Regions from separate parts of the Homo sapiens genome. Here region 1 is linked to region 2. The links come from fine-mapping of genetic effects on gene expression. A gene starts in region 2. The other region holds a variant in brackets. All regions are shown on one strand. Distances are from middle to middle. Region 1 holds the start of LOC102723663 (a long non-coding RNA gene). Region 2 holds the start of ATG7 (autophagy related 7).

Evidence for each region. PIP is the estimated chance that this variant, and not a neighbour inherited with it, causes the effect.
Region 1: its variant is fine-mapped to the expression of ATG7 in skeletal muscle (GTEx, PIP above 0.99).

What each region holds. Positions count from the first base shown.
Region 1 is chr3:11,218,831-11,228,090 of GRCh38, reverse strand. The region is part of intron 1 of HRH1 (histamine receptor H1); the gene reads right to left. It overlaps LOC102723663 (a long non-coding RNA gene), which reads left to right and starts at 2,173. Exons shown (of 4, transcript XR_001740596.2): 1 at 2,173-2,391. RefSeq lists an enhancer at 1,994-2,288. The variant T/C (reference allele first, on the strand shown) is at 5,045.
Region 2 is chr3:11,269,065-11,278,324 of GRCh38, reverse strand. ATG7 (autophagy related 7) reads right to left here and starts at 5,928. Exons shown (of 21, transcript NM_001349232.2): 1 at 5,895-5,928. RefSeq lists enhancers at 5,143-5,732, 5,881-6,010, 5,733-6,324, 6,281-6,330.

The sequences.
Region 1 (9,260 bases), 50 kb after region 2:
ACCCAACATGACCACATTCAGAGTTTCATGTTATGCTAATTCATTAATATATTCAGGAACTATTAATTAAACAATAATGTGGTACCAGGTATTATGCTAGGCCAAGCCACTAGAGATGGAAATGTGAATAAGACTCCCAATTCTCCCCTCGTTTTTGATATGCCTTAGGGATGGCTGGGGCCTGTCCTAGTTCATCCAAGAACTTTCTGTCCTGCTGATTAATTGGCCAGCTCCAACAGCAATCATTTCCCTAGTAACTGATAGCAAATCTTACTTCTGGCTGCTTCCTCAGGCAAGTGCTATCTAAGGACAGACTCTATTCACTCTCAGAGAGAGGAAGTTCCTAGGGGGTGTGGGCAAGTCAAGAAACCACAAAGAAAGTGGTCTTGTCTAGATCTCTTCAAGCACTCCAGAAGTGAAAGGAAGATGCTCAGGTGCAGACCAGAGTCCTGTGCAGCTCAGACAGGCCTCCTTCTGGGTGTGTATTTACATAATGAAAAGGTAAGGCCGGGCGTGGTGGCTCACGTCTGTAATCCCAGCACTTTGGGAGGCTGAGGTGGGCAGATCACCTAGGTCAGGAGTTTGAGACCAGCCTGGACAACATGGGGAAACCTCGTCTCCACTAAAAATACAAAAATTAGCCAGGCGTGGTGGCGGGCGCCTGTAATCTCAGTTACTTGGGAGGCTGAGGCAGGAGAATTGCTTGAACCAGGGAGGCGGAGGCTGCAGTGAGCTGATATCACGTCACGGCACTCCAGCCTGGGGGACAGAGCGAGACTCCGCCTGAGGAAAAAAAAAAAAAAAGATCTTAATCACCCCATAGGCAAATGGCATTTCCTTCCCAACCACTACGGTTCCATGCTCAGACCTACTTCAAAACTCTGCACTACAGGTGACTGAAGAGCAGAGATGATGTCCATGTGGGGTCACCCCTGTTCTGTTCTGCTGCAGACTTTGACAACATCGTCTCTCAACTGCTGTCACAGCTTCCTAACTGGTCTTTCTGCTCCTGGTTTTGGCCTCTTTCACACAGAAGCCAAATGATCTTTCTAAAACCACAAATCCAGTTCCCCTACTCAAAACTCTTTAATGGCTGGCCACTGTTGTCAGGATATACAGAAGCACCCTGGCCCCACATGTGTGATACAAGGGTAACAACCCAAATAAAGTCTACACATGGTATCTTCTTTTTTTTTTTTTTTTTTAGACTGAGTCTTGCTCTGTCACCCAGGTTGTAGTGCAATGGTGCCATCTCGGCTCACTACGACCTCTGCCTCCCAGGTTCAAGTGATTCTCGTGCCTCAGCCTCCTGAGTAGCTGGGATTACAGGCACCCACCATGACACCTGGCTATTTTTTTGTATTTTTAGTAGAGACGGGGTTTCACCATGTTGGCCAGGCTGGTCTCCAACTCCTGACCTCAAGTGATCCACCCGCGTCAGCCTCCCAAAGTGCTGGGATTACAGGCATAAGTCACCACGCCTGGCCCCATGATCACATTAAAAAGAAATTCAAGTCCAACATCCAGAAAATAAAACGATATGGAAAAGTAACTTCAACCTTTACTGAAGACTCTCAAAGAGGCAAAACCATCACAAAGAACTTCTCCCATCTGTCGCTACATAGCGCCAGCTACAGCATCACCTGCTCATCCTCAAATCTTCCTGCTCTCTCTCTCAAAAACTTCAGGTTGCCTTGGTTCCCCTTTAATTCCCTTTTCCCTTCTTTCACCCACTCTTCAATCTTTCTGATTTATGGAAGAGTATCATGTAATTTCTAATATAAATGAACTTAGCTTTCCCAGTGCCCTCTTTTCTTTACTCATTACTCTAATCAGCCTGGCAAATGCCCACGAGATAAGCAAACAGGTCTACTCCGGAAACGGAGGGAGGGTGCCGGGCAGTGGCTAGTATATGTCAATACCTTCGACCCATCACACAGAGCTTTTTCCACCTGGTCTCACCTTACTGTGCAGCCTCATCTCTGATTCTCCACTCTCCCCAAATAGGCCCTGCTCGTGTACACCCCATACCTTTACAAATGCTGCTCTCCTGCCGGGAATGCCTGTTCTCATCCTCTTACCCTGGCAAGACATTCAGTTAGTTCTTTACAACCCAGTTCTGATGTCACTTCCTTTTAGTCATTCATCCGTCCCTCTGGGCTGGGTTAATTCACTTCCTTCTCCAGGGCTTCGCTGAACTCTGCACAGACCTCAATTACAACCCTTATAAAGCTGGGTTGTGGTCGGGTGCGGTGGCTCATGCCTGTAATCCCAGCACTTGGGAGACTGAGGCATGTGAGTCGCCTGAACCCGGGAGGCAGAGGTTGAAGTGAGCCGAGATCGTGCCACTGCACTCCAGCCTGGGCGACAGAGCGAGACTCCGTCTCAAAAGTAAGTAAGTAAATAAATAAATAATAAAGCTAGGTTGTAATTCCTTAATTACTGATCAGACTTTTTTCACTAGACTGTGGGTGTCACATGTGGGTCTGAGTCATCTCTGTGTCCTCAGAGCCAAGAAGTGGGGAGGTGCTTAATGAAGTTACTGAATGCTCCAGAAATATGTTCCCGTCACTGAGTGCTCCAAAGAGGCATTCACCTGTCTCCTCTTCCCTGATCATCCCTCGGGGCTACCTGGAGTGCCTGCCAGATCAGAGTTTGAGAGATCTGCCCTGGCAGTCGCCTGACTAGGCCTACATATCTTCCCGTGTCTGGCCAGCCTTCCAGAGAGCAGTCTGTCCCTCTCTCCGACTCCAGCCGGCCAGGCCTGGTTCTCACATTGTCAAAAATAAAAGGAGTTAAAAGAAGCCAAGCGATTAGGCAAGAAAAGGAAATGAAGGCATCCAGACTTGAAGGAAAGAAGTGAAACTATTTGAAGATAACATGGTCTTGTTTGTAGAAAATCCTGGGGAATCTACAAGAAAATTTTTAGAACTCACAAATGAGTTCCAGGGGCCCAAGTCCTCAGTTTGGCTTTGAAGGGGTCCCTTGGTCTCCTGGCCCTGCTCCCCCTTTCCTGTGGCACTTCCCAGCACTCCTCCTGTGAGTGGCTCTTAGCAGCCGCAGTGGAGCATCCACTTTGACGTTGCCTACTTTCCCCTCTCTTCTCCCTGCCTGGGTAGAGCCTTTGAAGAGCTTCTGTCTCATCTTCACCTCATCCCTAAAGTCCTTAAATAAGGGGCATATTTATCGAGGATAAGAATTGGACCTGTGTTATCTCATTCAATCCCCACAGCAACCTTTGGAAGTGGGAACTGTAATTATCACCCCCATTTTTCAGATGAGGCTCTGGGAACCTATGCCCCTGGTCCAACCTCACAGTTATGAGGCCCACTGGGCTTGAAAGCAAGGGCTGCCTGACTCCAACATCCAATTTCTTTTTTTTTTTTTTTTTGAGATGGAGTCTCGCTCAGTCGCCCAGGCTGGAGTGCAGTGGCGCATACTCGGCTCGCTGCAAGCTCCGCCTCCTGGGTTCACGCCATTCTCCTGCCTCAGCCTCCCGAGTAGCTGGGACTACAGGTGCCCACCACCATGCTCGGCTAATTTTTTTTGTATTTTTTAGTAGAGACCGGGTTTCACCGTGTTAGCCAGGATGGTCTCGATATCCTGAACTCATGATCCGCCTGCCGCGGCCTCCCAAAGTGCTGGGATTACAGGCGTGAGCCACCGCGCCCGGCCCTCCAACATCCAATTTCTTAACCCGAAATTTGGAAAGAGAAGTGAGGCCCTATTCTAATGCTTCCTCCCCTAGCTAGATGTATCTCTTCTTTCCCTGACCCAGACTCCAAGGCTGATAAGCTATCAGTGTGTAGAGCTGACTCTGTACTGTGATCATTTATGCAGAGCTTTTCTCTCCCCTGTTTGGCTGGAAGATCCATGGGAGCAGAGGCCACGTCTTATTCAGCCTCACATGCTAGAACTGCTTGGCACATGGTAGGCATGCACATTGCACGGCTTCAGAAAGAGTGAAATGAGATGGTTGAGGCACAATACACTAAAGAGAACAAATGTGTGTTCTCTTTTGCATGCACAGGAGAGATGGCCTCAATCATATTTGGGGTGTCAGGATGATGTGGCTGGAACATGTCATGGGGAAAGGCCATCCTCCTCCTTGCTGACAGTGCCCTCTGTGTCCCCTCAAGGCTGCGGAAGAGTCATCCTGGAGAGAAGGGCCCAGTCTTCAGGGCAAGGATTTGTGTGCTCATCTTTGTTTACTGTGTGTTTGGCACAGTAGAAAATATTTGTTGAATGAATTTGCTGTGTGACGCTGAACCCTTCTCTCAACTTCTCCAGGCCTCCTCTGTTAAACAAGGGGGTTGCTCAAGATTAGGGATTTTTCAAACATTTCCCTTTCCCCCTTTTCTTGGTAGCGCAACTACTGGTTTATGTAACAATTTATATAAGACAGAAGCAGCTTGCTGCTGTAGCTGGAGTGGAGTGGGGGAACCCAGAGCCCTGTCTACTTGACTCCCCCTCTTTGCCCCACACTCCCCAGAGGCCCCTCAGAGCAGCTAGAGAACAGTCAAGCTGGAGGAACTCTAAAGGGTGTTGAAATTCGGAGAGCTCTGTAAGGAGCGTCCACATTTTTTTTTTTTGAGATGGAGTCTCGCTCTGTCGCCCAGGCTGGAGCGCAGTGGCGCCATCTCTGCTCACTGCAAGCTCCGCCTCCTGGGTTCACACCATGCTCCTGCCTCAGCCTCTCGAGTGGCTGGGACTACAGGCGCCCGCCACCACCCCCGGCTGATTTTTTTTTTTTGTATTTTTAGTAGAGATGGGGTTTCACCATGTTAGCCAGGATGGTCTCGATCTCCTAACCTTGTGGTCCACCTGCCTCAGTCTCCCAAAGTGCTGGGATTACAGGCATGAGCCACTGTGCCTGGACTTTTTTTTTTTTTTTTTTTTTTTTTTTTGAGACGAAGTCTCGCTTTGTCGCCAGGCTGGAGTGTGATGGTGCGATCTCGACTCACTGCAACCTCTGCCTCCTGGATTCAAGCGATTCTCCTGCCGCAGCTTCCTGAGTAGCTGGGACTACAGGCACGCGCCACCA[T/C]GCCCAGCTAATTTTTGTATTTTTAGTAGAGGTGGGGTTTCACCATGTTGGCCAGGATAGTCTTGATCTCTTGACCTCATGATCCGCCTGCCTTGGCCTCCCAAAGTGCTAGGATTACAGGCGTGAGCCACCGCGCCCGGCTGGAGCGTCTGCATTTTAAAAGAGTGGCTCTGAAAAGAGAAAATCCTTTACCACACATTTGGACAACTATTATTTAATGCGCTTGAATGGTGGAATGTAAGGGCCTTGATTAGGAGTGGGAGGGTGTAGTGTTGTCTTAGGATGGAGAGTTTATGTTTCCCAGGACCTCTAAACGCCCCCTGGGTCTAGGGGGCCACTAGTTCTGCCTTACTATTTGTGCAAGTGGGCCCTGACGCACAGCTCGCCAGCAGACACTCGGCCGCTGTACTTTCCCGTCAGCCTGCCATCTTCTTCTTCTCAGTGGCTATCTGCTTCACTCCTGCTTTTCTCCATTGATTTTTCCCTCCTCTTGTTTTCCAGAACTCACAAAAACCTCCACTGGTTCTAAGCATTTTACATAGTGCTGTGAACTTGCTGGAGGAAGTGGAATAAATGGATGCGTGATAGGCAAATCGCCCTAGATTTTGGTATTTGAGTTAAAATTCCACACAACACCTGGGATATATAATCACACAGAAACCACTTAGCTTCTTGTGAAAACAATCACAGAGTCTAGGAAATGGAAAAATAATCATAGTTTTCATAAATTGTTCCCATGAGGACCTGCTCAATGCTGGGAAGTTCCAGCTGTGCACACTTCCAGCTGTGGCTGCACCCACCCTCACTCCCACCCCGTCCTGTGCCTCCTGCCACCTTGCTATTTACCCAGTTCCTGACTGTGGGTGTTCAAGAGAGCTATTAAGTGACTACTGGTATCTAGCCGAGATGCTCCCCTGTACAATCTGAACAACTACACCATCACTGGAATAAAGGATTACTGGACACTTTTAAAGAGAAACTGATATACTCATGTTCATAGCAGCATTATTCACAATAACCAGAAGGTGGAAGCAACCCACATGTCCATCAGCAGATGAATGGGGAAACAGAATGTGGTCCTCACATACCATGGAATATTTTTAAGCCTTAAAAAAGGAAGGGCATCTGGCACGTGGTATCACCTGGATGAACCTTGAGGACATTCTGCTAAGTAAAATATGCCAATCAGAGAAAGAGAAATACTGCATGATTCCACTTATATAAAGTCCCTAGAGCCATCAAATTCATAGAGATAAAAAGTGGAATGGTGGCTGCCGGGGGCTGCGGGAAGGAGGAAAGGGGAGTTAGTGTTTAATGGGTACAGAATTTCAGTTTTGCAAAGTGAAGAGTTCTGGAGGTGGATGGTGGTGATGGGTGGTGATGGGCACATGATTGCATGGTTGTGAATGTAGTTAGTGTCACTGAACCGTGCATATAAAATGGTTAAACTCGTAAGTATTATGGATATATATATATACATTTTTTTTTTTTTGAGATGGAGTCTCGCTCCGTTGCCCAGGCTGGAGTGCAATGGCGTGATCTCGGCTCACTGCAACCTCTGCCTCCTGGGTTCAAGCGATTCTCCTGCCTCAGCCTCCCAAGTAGCTGGGATTACAGGTGCATGCTGCCATGGCCGGCTAATTTTTTTTGTATTTTAGTAGAGACAGGGTTTCACCGTGTTGCCCAGGCTGGTCTTAAACTCCTGAGCCCAGGCAATCCACCCACCTCGGCCTCCCAAAGTGCTAGGATTATAGGCATGAGCCACTGCACCTGGCCCCGTGTTACAGATATTTTACCACAATTAAAAATAAATAAATAAATGAGAAACTAAACAGCTCCTTAAAGCACTTTGACAAGGTCTAACATTAAAGGATTTGTCAACTTAAGGGCATCTTAAGAAGAAATCCTCCTGGGAATTCATGGTAGACTGAATGGAGGTGTCTTGTGGTAGACAGCATTGATTGAGTTGTTACACTTTAAACCAAATTTTCTTATAAACTCATATTCCCACGCCCAGATACTTTGGGGGTAGTGACTCCAGAGAGTCTATTTAACATTGAACTTGATTTCTCCTTCTCATCTCAGTTAAAGAATTGGGGATTCGTCTCTTTTATGCCCCTGGGGAAGCAGGATTCTGAATAAAACTGACTGTCTCTGTGATTGGTTTTCTTTTTTTGTTATTGACATAGAACAATCATAAAATCATGAAATGCAGCAAAATAATGTGTACATTATTATTTTACTTATATAAAACAGAGAAATGCAGGGGGAAAAAGTGAATCTTTGAGAGGTAGGCCACCCTTCCCTGGGGTTGCTATAATGAACCTCAACTTGTCTGTTCTTTAAGTTCAGCGCAGCCCGATAAAGGAGGGCAAACAAGGTTTACAAGAGGCAGCCCAACAAGAAGGGTAAAACCAGCATGATCTTCCCTGCACAGGATGACGGAAACCAATTTACCGTCTCAGCTGTGTGTCTAAGGTGCATTTTCACCTGCCGGTGTGCATGGGCAGCCCTGCAGCTCCACACCGCCTCTTGCTAGTTGCCTGCTGGAGTGGCTGCAGGCTCTGCACTGGGTTGTAGGAAACCCAAGCACCGGCAGCCTCATTCCTAAGCCCCTTGCATACCAACAAACAGGACACTGCACCTCAGCAGTACTGTTCTCACAGAGGACAGGGATTCTCAGGACAGTGATGAGGTAACCGGCCTCAGAGACAGGCGGCTTTACCAAGACTATACAGCAAGTCAGGGTTGGAGCTGACAGTGGCACTTGGGGTTTCTTAGACCCAGGTCCAATTCTTTTTGGAACGAAACAACTAACATATATAGCAGTTACCCCAGGCCAGGCGTGGTGTTAGGGGATTGATAGGTATTGTTTTATTAAAGTCCCACCACAATGCTAGGAGGTAATTACTATTACAATTACTTTTCCAGATTACTAATTGAGTCTTAGAGAGCTTAAGTAATTTGCCAAAAGTCACGGAGCTAACAAAAGGCAGAATCTGGATTTTAACCTTGGTCTGCGTGACTACTCTGTTTGTAGCCAATACTTCCTTCCTTTTTCAGAAAAATTTATTGTAAAAAAAAAAAAAAAAAAAACAACACATTAAGTTACCACAATTAAAATAAATAAGAAAGAAACTAAACAGCTCCTTAAAGCATTTTGACAAGGTCTAACATTAAAGGATTTGTCAATTTAAGGTCATCTTAGGAAGAAATCTTCCTGGGAATTCAGGGTAGACTGAATGGACGTGTCTTGCAGCAGATACCAGTGCATTGATTGAATTGTTACACATTAAATTAAATTTTCTTTCCTTTTTTTTTTTTTTTTTTTTGAGATGAAGTCTCAACTCTTATTGCCCGAGCTGGAGTGCAGTGGCATAAACTCAGTTCACTGCAAGCTCCACCTCCCGGGTCCAAGCGATTCTCCTGCTTCAGCCTCCCAAGTAGCTAGGACTGCAGGCACACACCACCATTCCCAGCTAATTTTTGTATTTTTAGTAGAGACGGGGGTTTCACTATGTTGGCCAGGCTGGTTTTGAACTCCTGACCTCGTGCTCCGCCCGCCTCGGCCTCCCAAAGTGCTGGGATTACAGGCATGAGCCACCGTGCCCAGCCTATTTATTTTTAACTGTGGCAAAATACCTACACTAAAACACTTACCACTTTAACCATTTTACATGCACAGTTCAATGATACTAACTACATTCACAACCACGCAACCATGAACTCATCGCCACCATCCATCTCCAGAATTCTTATAATAATCCATTAATTCATGTGCTAGGTTTGTATGGTTTTCTGGAGTCACTGCTCCCTGAGGTATTTAGACATGGCAATATGAATTTATAAGAAAATTTAGGCCAGGCGCGGTCGCTCACTCCTGTAATCCCAGCACTTTAAGAGGCTGAGGTGGGTGGATCACGAGGTCAGGAGTTCAAGACCAGCCTGGCCAACATAGTGAAACCCTGTCTCTACTAAAAATACAAAAAATTAGCTGGGCATGGTAGCTTATGCCTGTAATCCCAGCTACTCAGAGGCTGAGGCAGGAAAATTGCTTGAACCTAGGAGGTGGAGGTTGCAGTGAGCCGAGATCACGCCACGGCACTCCAGCCTGGGCAACAGAGCAAGACTCTGTCTCCAAAAATAAATAAATAAATAAGTAAATAAACAAGGCTGGGCACAGTGGCTCACGCCTGTAATCCCAGCACTTTGGGAG
Region 2 (9,260 bases):
AACATAAATTGTGAAGATTTCATTTTAATATGGACATTTATCAGTTCCAAAAATTAATACTTTTATAATTTCTTATGCCTGTCTTTAATCTCTTAATCCTGTTATCTTTGTAAGCTGAGAATGTAAGTCACCTCAGGACCACTATTGTGTTAACTGTACAAATTGATTGTAAAACATGTGTGTTTAAACAATATGAAATCAGTGCACCTTGAAAAAGAACAGAATAACAGTGATTTTCAGGGAACAAGGGAAGACAACCATAAGGTCTGACTGCCTACAGGGTCAGGCAGAATACAGCCATATTTTTGTTCTTGCAGAGAGCCTATAAACAGACGTGCAAGTAGGGAAGATATCACTAAATTCTTTTCCTAGCAAGAAATATTAATAATTAAGACCCTGGGAAAGGAATGCATTCCTGGTGGGGGGGGGGGGGTCTATAAAGGGCCGCTCTGGGAGTGTCTGTCTTACGCAGTTGAGATAAGGACTGAAATATGCCCTGTTCTCCTGCAGTACCCTCAAGCTTACTAGGATTGGGAAACCCCACCCTGGTAAATTTGAGGTCAGACCAGTTCTCTGCTCTCGAACCCTGTTTTCTGTTGTTTAAGATGTTTATCAAGACAATACATACACTGCTGAACATAGACCCTTATCAGGAGTTTCTGATTTTGTCCTTGTCCTGTTTCCTCAGAAGCATGTGATCTTTGTGACCCACTCCCTGTTCGCACACCCCCTCCCCTTTTGAAGTCCTTAATAAAAACCTGCTGGTTTTGCAGCTCGGGTCGGCATCACAGTCCTACCAATATGTGATGTCACCCCCAGAGGCCCAGCTGTAAAATTCCTCTCTTTGTACTCTTTCTCTTTATTTCTCAGCCAGCTGACACTTATGGAAAATAGAAAGAACATACCTTGAAATATTGGGGGCAGGTTCCCCTGATAGAGTTCTGTATGGCAGCAAGGAGAGGCACATGGGGCAGAGTAGATGGACCATGCCATAAAAGCAGGCAAAGGCCATATCATGAAGAGCCTTATGTGAAAAGCTATGCAACTGTATTTCTGCATAGATCTCTATTTTAGTAAAGGCAATCCACAGCAGTGAGGACCAGACTGCTGAGGCAGGGCAACCAGCTGGGAGGCTGTGCAGAAAGACAGGCAAAAAGGGAGGGGAGCCTGAAATGAGGGAGCAAGGGAGGAAATGGAGGAGATGTGAGTCAGGAGATAGCAACAAAGTCGAATCTATAGAACTCTGATGACTACCTGGACTTGGAAGATGGAAAGGAGGGCTAGTACCAGAGGAAGAGTCTGAGATGACTCTCAGGGTTCTGTTTTGGATGACTAAATGAAAGGAGAGGAATTGGCAAGATTCAAGAATGGAGAAAGAACGGCAGGTTCAAAGGGAAGATGAGGAGCTTAGTTTTAGACTTGTTTGAGTTTGAGGGTAGCACTCAGGAGAGATTCGGGCTATGATACAGAACAGGGGTCATGAGCATATAAACAAGTTTGAAGCTGCGGTTGAAAAGAATATAGTAGAGGGCAGAGTCTTGGCAAAAATTGGCATGTGAGGGACAAAGGGGAAGAAAGGAGCCCACAATGGAAATTGAGGGACAAATGGCCAGAGAGATAATACAAAGTAGGACTGGGTTTTCCTAAGTGAGGGGCAAGGTCAGCAATGTCAGATGTGCCAAGAAAGATAAGAAGGAAAAGTGGTCAGGTATTCTGGCAATGTCGAGGTCTGATGACTTTGGGGAGTGGTGGGACGAGAGCAGGATTTTAGCAATGACTTAGGGAAGTACAGGAAGCAACTCTAGATAACTCTTCCAAGAAAGGTGGCTGGGTAAAAGAGGTGTGACAGGGTGCAGCATAGGTTAATTGGAGGGTTTTTGTTTTTTCCAAAATGAGAGTAAACAGAGAATATTTAAATGAGAAGGGTTGATGAAACAGAAAAGAAAATGAACAAATGATGGAACCCAGTCCTTGAGGCAAAGGAGGCGATGGGATCTCAAGCACAAATAGAGGACTTAGTCTTAAAACACCATTTCTTTCACAGAATTAGAATAAAAGGCAAAAGGATAGGGTCAGCTAAAGATCAGTTGGTAAAGGATAGAAGAGGAAGCTGCGATGCCTTAATTAATGGCTGCAACTTAGTGGAGCAAAAGTCAAGGTAGGAGGTTGAGGAGAGGAATGAATATGAGGAAGACATAAAGGGAAATGGACAAGAGAGCTGCCTGAGGATATGGGGAGGGCTGAGCCACGCTGAGGGCCTATTTGGTGGCACACTAGTGTAATAGTGTCAAAAGCACAATGTGTCTATAATGGAGCTGGCAGGGCTTTAGGTTACCACAAGAAAAGTGCAGTCTTGCTCTGCATGGTTAGAGTCCTCAAGGAAAGAGGATTTCCTTTCTGTACCACACACTCAAAGAGAGGCTGACAAACCAGAGCAAGTTCAAGGATGGTAACTGGGATGAAGGTGTGAGGAAATCCCAAAAGTGATCATTCTGAAGCCGGTCTGAGATGGAGTGAATAGGCTATTCCTCAGTCTGCCAAGATCATGGTAATACCTACTGACTACCAATTAACAGAGCAGCACCTCCAGTATTTATTGTCCCTTGATTATACAATCAGGCCTTAATCGCACTGGAGAAGGGTGGGGAGATCAGGAGATAGAAAGGGGAGAGGAAGCGGTGGCTCACGCCTGTAATCTCAGCACTTTGAGAGGCTGAGGCAGGCGGATCACGAGGTCAGGAGATGGAGACCATCCTGGCTAGCACAGTGAAACCCCATCTCTACTAAAAAAAAAAAAAAAAAAAAAAAATTAGCCGGGCATGGTGGTGGGCACCTGTAGTCCCAGTTCCTGGGGAGGCTGAGGCAGGAGTATGGAGTGAACCCAGGAGGCAGAGCTTGCAGTGAGCCGAGATCGTGCCACTGCACTCCAGCCTGGGCGACAGAGTGAGACTCCATCTCAAAAAAAAAGAAAAAAAAAAAAAGAGGAGAGGAAGACATTAGCGAACGTCATTTCCATGGGTAGAAGTGGACGACAGAGGCAAACTGAATTCCAAATAAAATCAGAGGTCAGGGTTAATCTATTAGAGACACTAGTCAAAGAATTTTGTTACTGCTCAATTCCACACAGCAAATTCATTTCTGCCCTCCCGTCATCAGGATCCTGATTCTTGTCCCCTTCTTCTGTTTCATCCTATCAGTTACCAAGTCCAGCAAATTCCACCTCCTTAATCTCTCAACTCCTCCCACTCCTCTCCATCTCCACTGTCACTGCCTTCATCCAGATCTTCATCCTGTCACCTGGATCACTGCAACTATACCCAACTGGTCCCCTGCTTGTCTTTTTCTGTCCAGTGTAATCACCACATTGCTGCCTGGGTAATTTAAAACAGATGAGAGGATGTCGCATCTGTTTTAAAATCTTCAGTGTCCTGCTCTCCACCCCCGCCCCCACATTTTAGAGTCCAAACTTCTGGGCCTGGCAATATTAATGACTACTGTTTATTGAGTATTTATCATCTACCAGTGTCAAGTGAGTAACATATCACCTCGTACAGTTTTTATTTCCCCTTCTTAGAGATGAGGAAACTGAAGCTTAGAAAGAAGTGACTTGCCCAGGGTCACAAAACTAGTTCAGTGGCAATGGGAATATTGGTACGCAGCTATCTTGGATCCCAAAGTCTATGTGCGGGTAACATGCTATTGTCCACAGGGCCCTTCACGATGTGGCTAGTGCTTACCTTTCCAGTCACCTCTCATCCTACACCTCCACACTGGCACTCCAGTGAACCACAAGCAGGCCATGCATTCTCACCTCTAGCCCTTTGCTCATCTCACTTCGAACCACTCTTCACCTGTCAGATCTCGTTCGTCCTTCAGGTCTTGGCTAAAGCAGCACCTCCTCACTGAAACCTTCTCTGATGAGTCAGCCTGACTTATGCGTACCCTAAGTCCTCCTCTACCAAACCTCCGCAATAGCTTCATGCCATACCGTTGCTATCTCCTTGGCTTAAAAAAAAAGTAAACTCTTTGAGGACAGGGATGTGTATCTTACTCATTTTTGTATTCCCAGCTTGCAGCGCAGTGCCAGACACACAGCTGAAGCTCAATAAATGTTTATTCTCTATAATGAGATGCTGGCTGGGAACGAAAAACGGAACCTGTGGTTGAGTAATGGAAAGTCCAGTACTCAGCTCTTAAAGGATTTCAAAATCATGTCACATGAGGGCAGGAAGGAGTTGGCCAAGATAAATGGAAGAGGAAGGGGAGATGTTCGAAGCAGCAGAAGCAAAGGGCTATAGGTGACACACACCTGCAAGCAGCTTAACAAGACTGGAGCAGCGTTGGGGGATGGGAAAGCAGTTTAGCAACATGAGCCATTCCAAGACTGGACTTTTCTTTATTCAAGTGTTAGGTCACTTCCTCAGGGAAGCCATCCCTGACTAGCTAGCTTTTATGCTTCCCCCCAATTACTGTCCATCCCATGACCCTGTACGTTTCAGAATCGGAAACACCTACCAACCCTTACTGACAATGCCGCCACCGCCACCACCACCACTATTATTAGAAGGTGCCATGAAACAGGGTTCTTTTTCTTCTTATTTTACTGATAGATCACCAGTGCCCACAATAATGCCAGGCACATAACAGGCAAATATTTGTTTTATTCATTCATCCAACAAATATTTATTGAGCATATATAATATGCTAGGCATTGCTCTATATGCTGGGGATATAACAAAACATGACAAAATTTGCTGTCACTGTTAAGTTTACTATGAGCAAATACATTAAATATGCTTAGCCTAGAGAAGAAAAGGTGAGAAGAGGAAGACAAACTAGCAGCTTTCAATGATGTATAGGGCAATTAAATGCAGGGGTGATTCCAAGAGCCTGAAGGAGGAACAGTGAGCTAAGATTACCGAGTAGCTGCTTTCAGCTCAACCTAAGAGTCAGAACTGGGGGAGGACCAAACAGGAGCAACCAGAAGTAGAAAGCTTTCTGTCACTGAAGAAATCTGGCCAGTGGGCAGAGGTGTCAGAGAAAAAAATCTAAGTAGTCAATGAAAAAGGGAGTCTGGGATCCAGAGGTCCCAAACTGACAGCCACAGATATGACTGGTTACAGTTGAACAGGGTTTTGTAAAAACTGAGTTGCCAATGTTTTTAAACGCCAGAATTACTTGCCAATTTTTAAAAAATGGCATCAGTCGCCAGTGTTTAAAAATCAGGAAACTGCACGCACGTGCACACACACACGGTTTGGCTTGTACTTCTCCAACATCATGTACGTTAGTACTGTACTTATAAAATTAGAAGTTTGACTCTATTTCTGACAAATGTTCTAACACCTATATTTACCTTACCGGATTGATTCTTATTGTGCATTAGTTTCTAACCCTGTAACCAAGGAATCGAGAATCTTCTTTCTCAGAAAGTAAACTTATTTAACCTCCTCACTTAAACAAATGGCGGATTATCATTCCCATTTTGCAGATGGAAAAGCAGCTTAGATGGGGAAGGAACGTGCCAGAGACAGCAAATCCAGACACAGCCAGGCTGGGAATCCAAATGTCCCATCTCCCGTGTTCCAACACTGAAGATTCTGAGCACTGCCTACCAAGAGGACAGGAGGGGCTGACTTAGGAAATCAGCACGAGCTTCCAAGTCAGAAGACCCCGGACTGAACCAGTCTGAGGGGACGCGGCTACAGACGAAGGGCGCCAGCCGGAATCAGTGAGTCCCTGGAGGAGGAAGGACCACCCAGAAACTGGCAGAGGAGGATCCTGAGACTTGCTGTGACCCTCGCCCTCCCTGGCGAGCTCGCCCCTTGACTCCAGGCCTCCAAAACCGGCCCAGCAAGACCCCACTACACCCTCGCCCGCCGCGGCTCACTTACCGCCGCTCAACTTCCGGCAACCACAGCTCTCTCTGAGGCGCGCGCCCCGATGACGCAACGCGGTCCTGCCCGCGCTTGCCACTGGGAAGCGGCGCGCGTGCGCAAAGGAGCAGAGGCATGCCGGGGAAATGCGCCCCTAGCACCGAGCTAAGTGGGAGGAACTTGAGTCGTGAGGAGGGCGGGGCATCAGGGGGCGGTGACGCCCCCGGGGGAAGCGATGGAGAGCGTCTCCCTTACCAGATGTCGGAATGTCTACATTCCCTTCAGGCTTTTAAGAAAGTGCCCACGTTCTCTCTTTTGATTTCAGAGGATGACAGGAATGATCACCATGGTCATTCTCCAGGAGAGGCGGCATCAAACGCAGCACAGGGGCCATCAGGGTGGCAGGTGTGGAGAGCCAGGAGATGAGAATTTTAGTAGGAAAAGGCCAGTGAACGTCGACAGTGACCAACCTGCCTTTTCTAAACCAGCCATCATTCTCACAGCTCCTCACTGTCAGTGAGATAAAGTTATTCCCTCTCAATACTTGGTTAGATACTCTGCGCGTGCAAAGCACTGGACAGGTGTTGAAGATACAGCAGTGATTATGACAAGTTTCTCTGTCTGGCCTGTAAGGCCTTTCACAAATTAACTCTGATATACCACTCTAGACTCATAACAACAAGAGCGATGACTGCTATTAATTAACTAGCCACCATGTTTTCAGGGTTTTACATCTCTAATCCTCACAAGAGTCCTGAAACATATCCCCAAGTTATATATGAAAGAACAGAATCTAAGAAAAGTTAGGTGGCTTGCTGAAAGTTAAAGGGCTTTTGGGCCAGGAACGTAATCTGAAGTTTGTTTGATTCTGGCAAATAAGAAAACAAATCCAGACTAATAAGGATACTTATTAGAAAGGATTACTGCAGGCCCGGCGCGGTGGCTCACGCCTGTAATCACAGCACTTTGGGAGGCCGAGGCGGGCGGATCACGAGGTCAGGAGATCGAGACCATCCCGGCTAAAACGGTGAAACCCCGTCTCTACTAAAAATACAAAAAAATTAGCCGGGCGTGGTGGCGGGCGCCTGTAGTCCCAGCTACTTGGGAGGCTGAGGCAGGAGAATGGCGTGAACCCGGGAGGCGGAGCTTGCAGTGAGCCGAGATCCCACCACTGCACTCCAGCCTGGGCGACAGAGCGAGACTCCGTCTCAAAAAAAAAAAAAAAGAAAGGATTACTGCAAGAAGTGAGAGAGGTGGGAGAGAAGGAACCGTGCAATAGCAGAGGGAGACTATTGCAATAGTGAGATCACTCTGACCAAAACATCCGCAGATGTTTCAATGGTTAGGGAAAAAGAGGGTTCCCCCACCCCCCACCCTCCCCAAAGGCAGGTAAACAAGGCTGGAAACAACCGAATATGGGAAGTGGGATGAAGGGGTGGCTTGATCAGATAGTAGATTAGAGAATGTTTTATCTTGAGGCCAACCTATTCTCAGTAGGGGTTGTGTGTGTCAGTCTCTGAGCCCAAGCTAAGCCATCATATCCCCAGTGACCTGCACGTATACATCCAGATGGCTTGCAGCAACTGAAGATCCGCAGAAGTGAAAATAGCCTTAACTGATGACATTCCACCATTGTGATTTGTTTCTGCCCCACCCTAACTGATCAATGTACTTTGTAATCTCCCCCACCCTTAAGAAGGTTCTTTTATAGTCTCCCCCACCCTTAAGAAGTTTCTTTGTAATTCTCACCACCCTTGAGAATGTACTTTGTGAGATCCACCCCCTACCCCCAAAACATTGCTTTTAACTCCACCGCCTATCCCAAAACCTATAAGAACCAATGATAATCCCACCACCCTTTGCTGACTCTCTTTTTGGACTCAGCCCACCTGCACCCAGGTGAAATAAACAGCCTTGTTGCTCACACAAAGCCTGTTTGGTAGTCTCTTCACACGGACACATGAGACAGTATGCTAGTTCAAGCTGAGAGTAGGTTAAAGTAAGGAGCCTGGGGAAAGGAAAGAAGCTTAACCCAAGTTTGGTTAATAAGCATTTTTTCCAACTGGTCAATGGAGACAAGCAGCTCTGTAATCATTTATGAGGCAAAGAATGGGAATTCAGAAGGACTGTGTTTGACCTTGCCACAGTAAACAAGGGAGGCAACCAGGAGTCATTTAAGTGACATGAGAATGGGTATTTCTTTGTAGTGAACATTTTCTGAAGCACAAAAAGGTTAAGAAAGATTTCTCTTTTTTGCTTTATCTTTTTTTTTTTTTTTTTTTGAGACGGGGTCTCCCTCTGTTACCCAGGATAGAGTACAGTGGAGTGATCATAGCTCACTGCAGACTCAACCTCCTGAGCTCCAGGGATCCTCCCACCTCAGCCTCCTGAGTAGCTGGGACTACAGGTGCATGCCATCATGCCGGGCTAATTTTCTCATTTTTTGTAGAGACTGGGTCTTGCTATGTTGCCAGGGCTGGTCTTGAACTACTGGACTCAAGTGATCCTCCCACCTTCACCTCACAAAGTGCTGGGAATACAAGTGTGAGCCACCTTGCCCAGCAAGGATTTCTTTTTCCTTTTTTTTTTTTTTTTTGAGACGGAGTCTCGCTCTGTCACCCAGGCTGGAGTGCAGTGGCACAATCTTGGCTCACTGCAAGCTCCGCCTCCCAGGTCCATGACATTCTCCTGCCTCAGCCTCCCAAGTAGCTGGGACTATAGGCGCCCACCACCTCGCCCGGCTAATTTTTTGTATTTTTAGTAGAGACAGGGTTTCACCATGTTAGCCAGGATGGACTCGATCTCCTGACCTCATGATCCACCCGCCTCAGCCTCCCAAAGTGCTGAGATTACAGGTGTGAGCCACCACGCCCAGCCTTTTTTTTTTATTTATTTATTTTTTTGAGATGGAGTTTCACTCTTGTTGCCCAAGCTGGAGTGCAATGGCGCAATCTTGGCTCACTGCAACCTCCACCGCCCGGGTTCAAGCGATTCTTCTGCCTCAGCCTCCCAAGTAGCTGGGATTACAGGTGCATGCCACCACACCCGGCTAATTTTTTGTATTTTTAGTAGAAACGGAGTTTTACCATGTTAGCCCGCCTGATCTCAAACTCCTGACCTCAGGTGATCTGCTCACCTCGGCTTCCCAAAGCGCTGCGATTACAGGCGTGAGCCACTGCACCTGGCCAAGAAGGATTTCTTAACCTTTACTGTCAGAGGCATTTGAACCAGAATGACTCCATCTTGAATAGGGGCTGAGTAAAGTAAGGCTGAGACCTATTGGGCTGCATTCCCAGGAGGTTGGGCATTCTTACTCACAGGATAAAACTGGAGATCAGGGTATGACAGAGGTCACAAAGACCTTGCTGATAAAGGTTGTGCTAA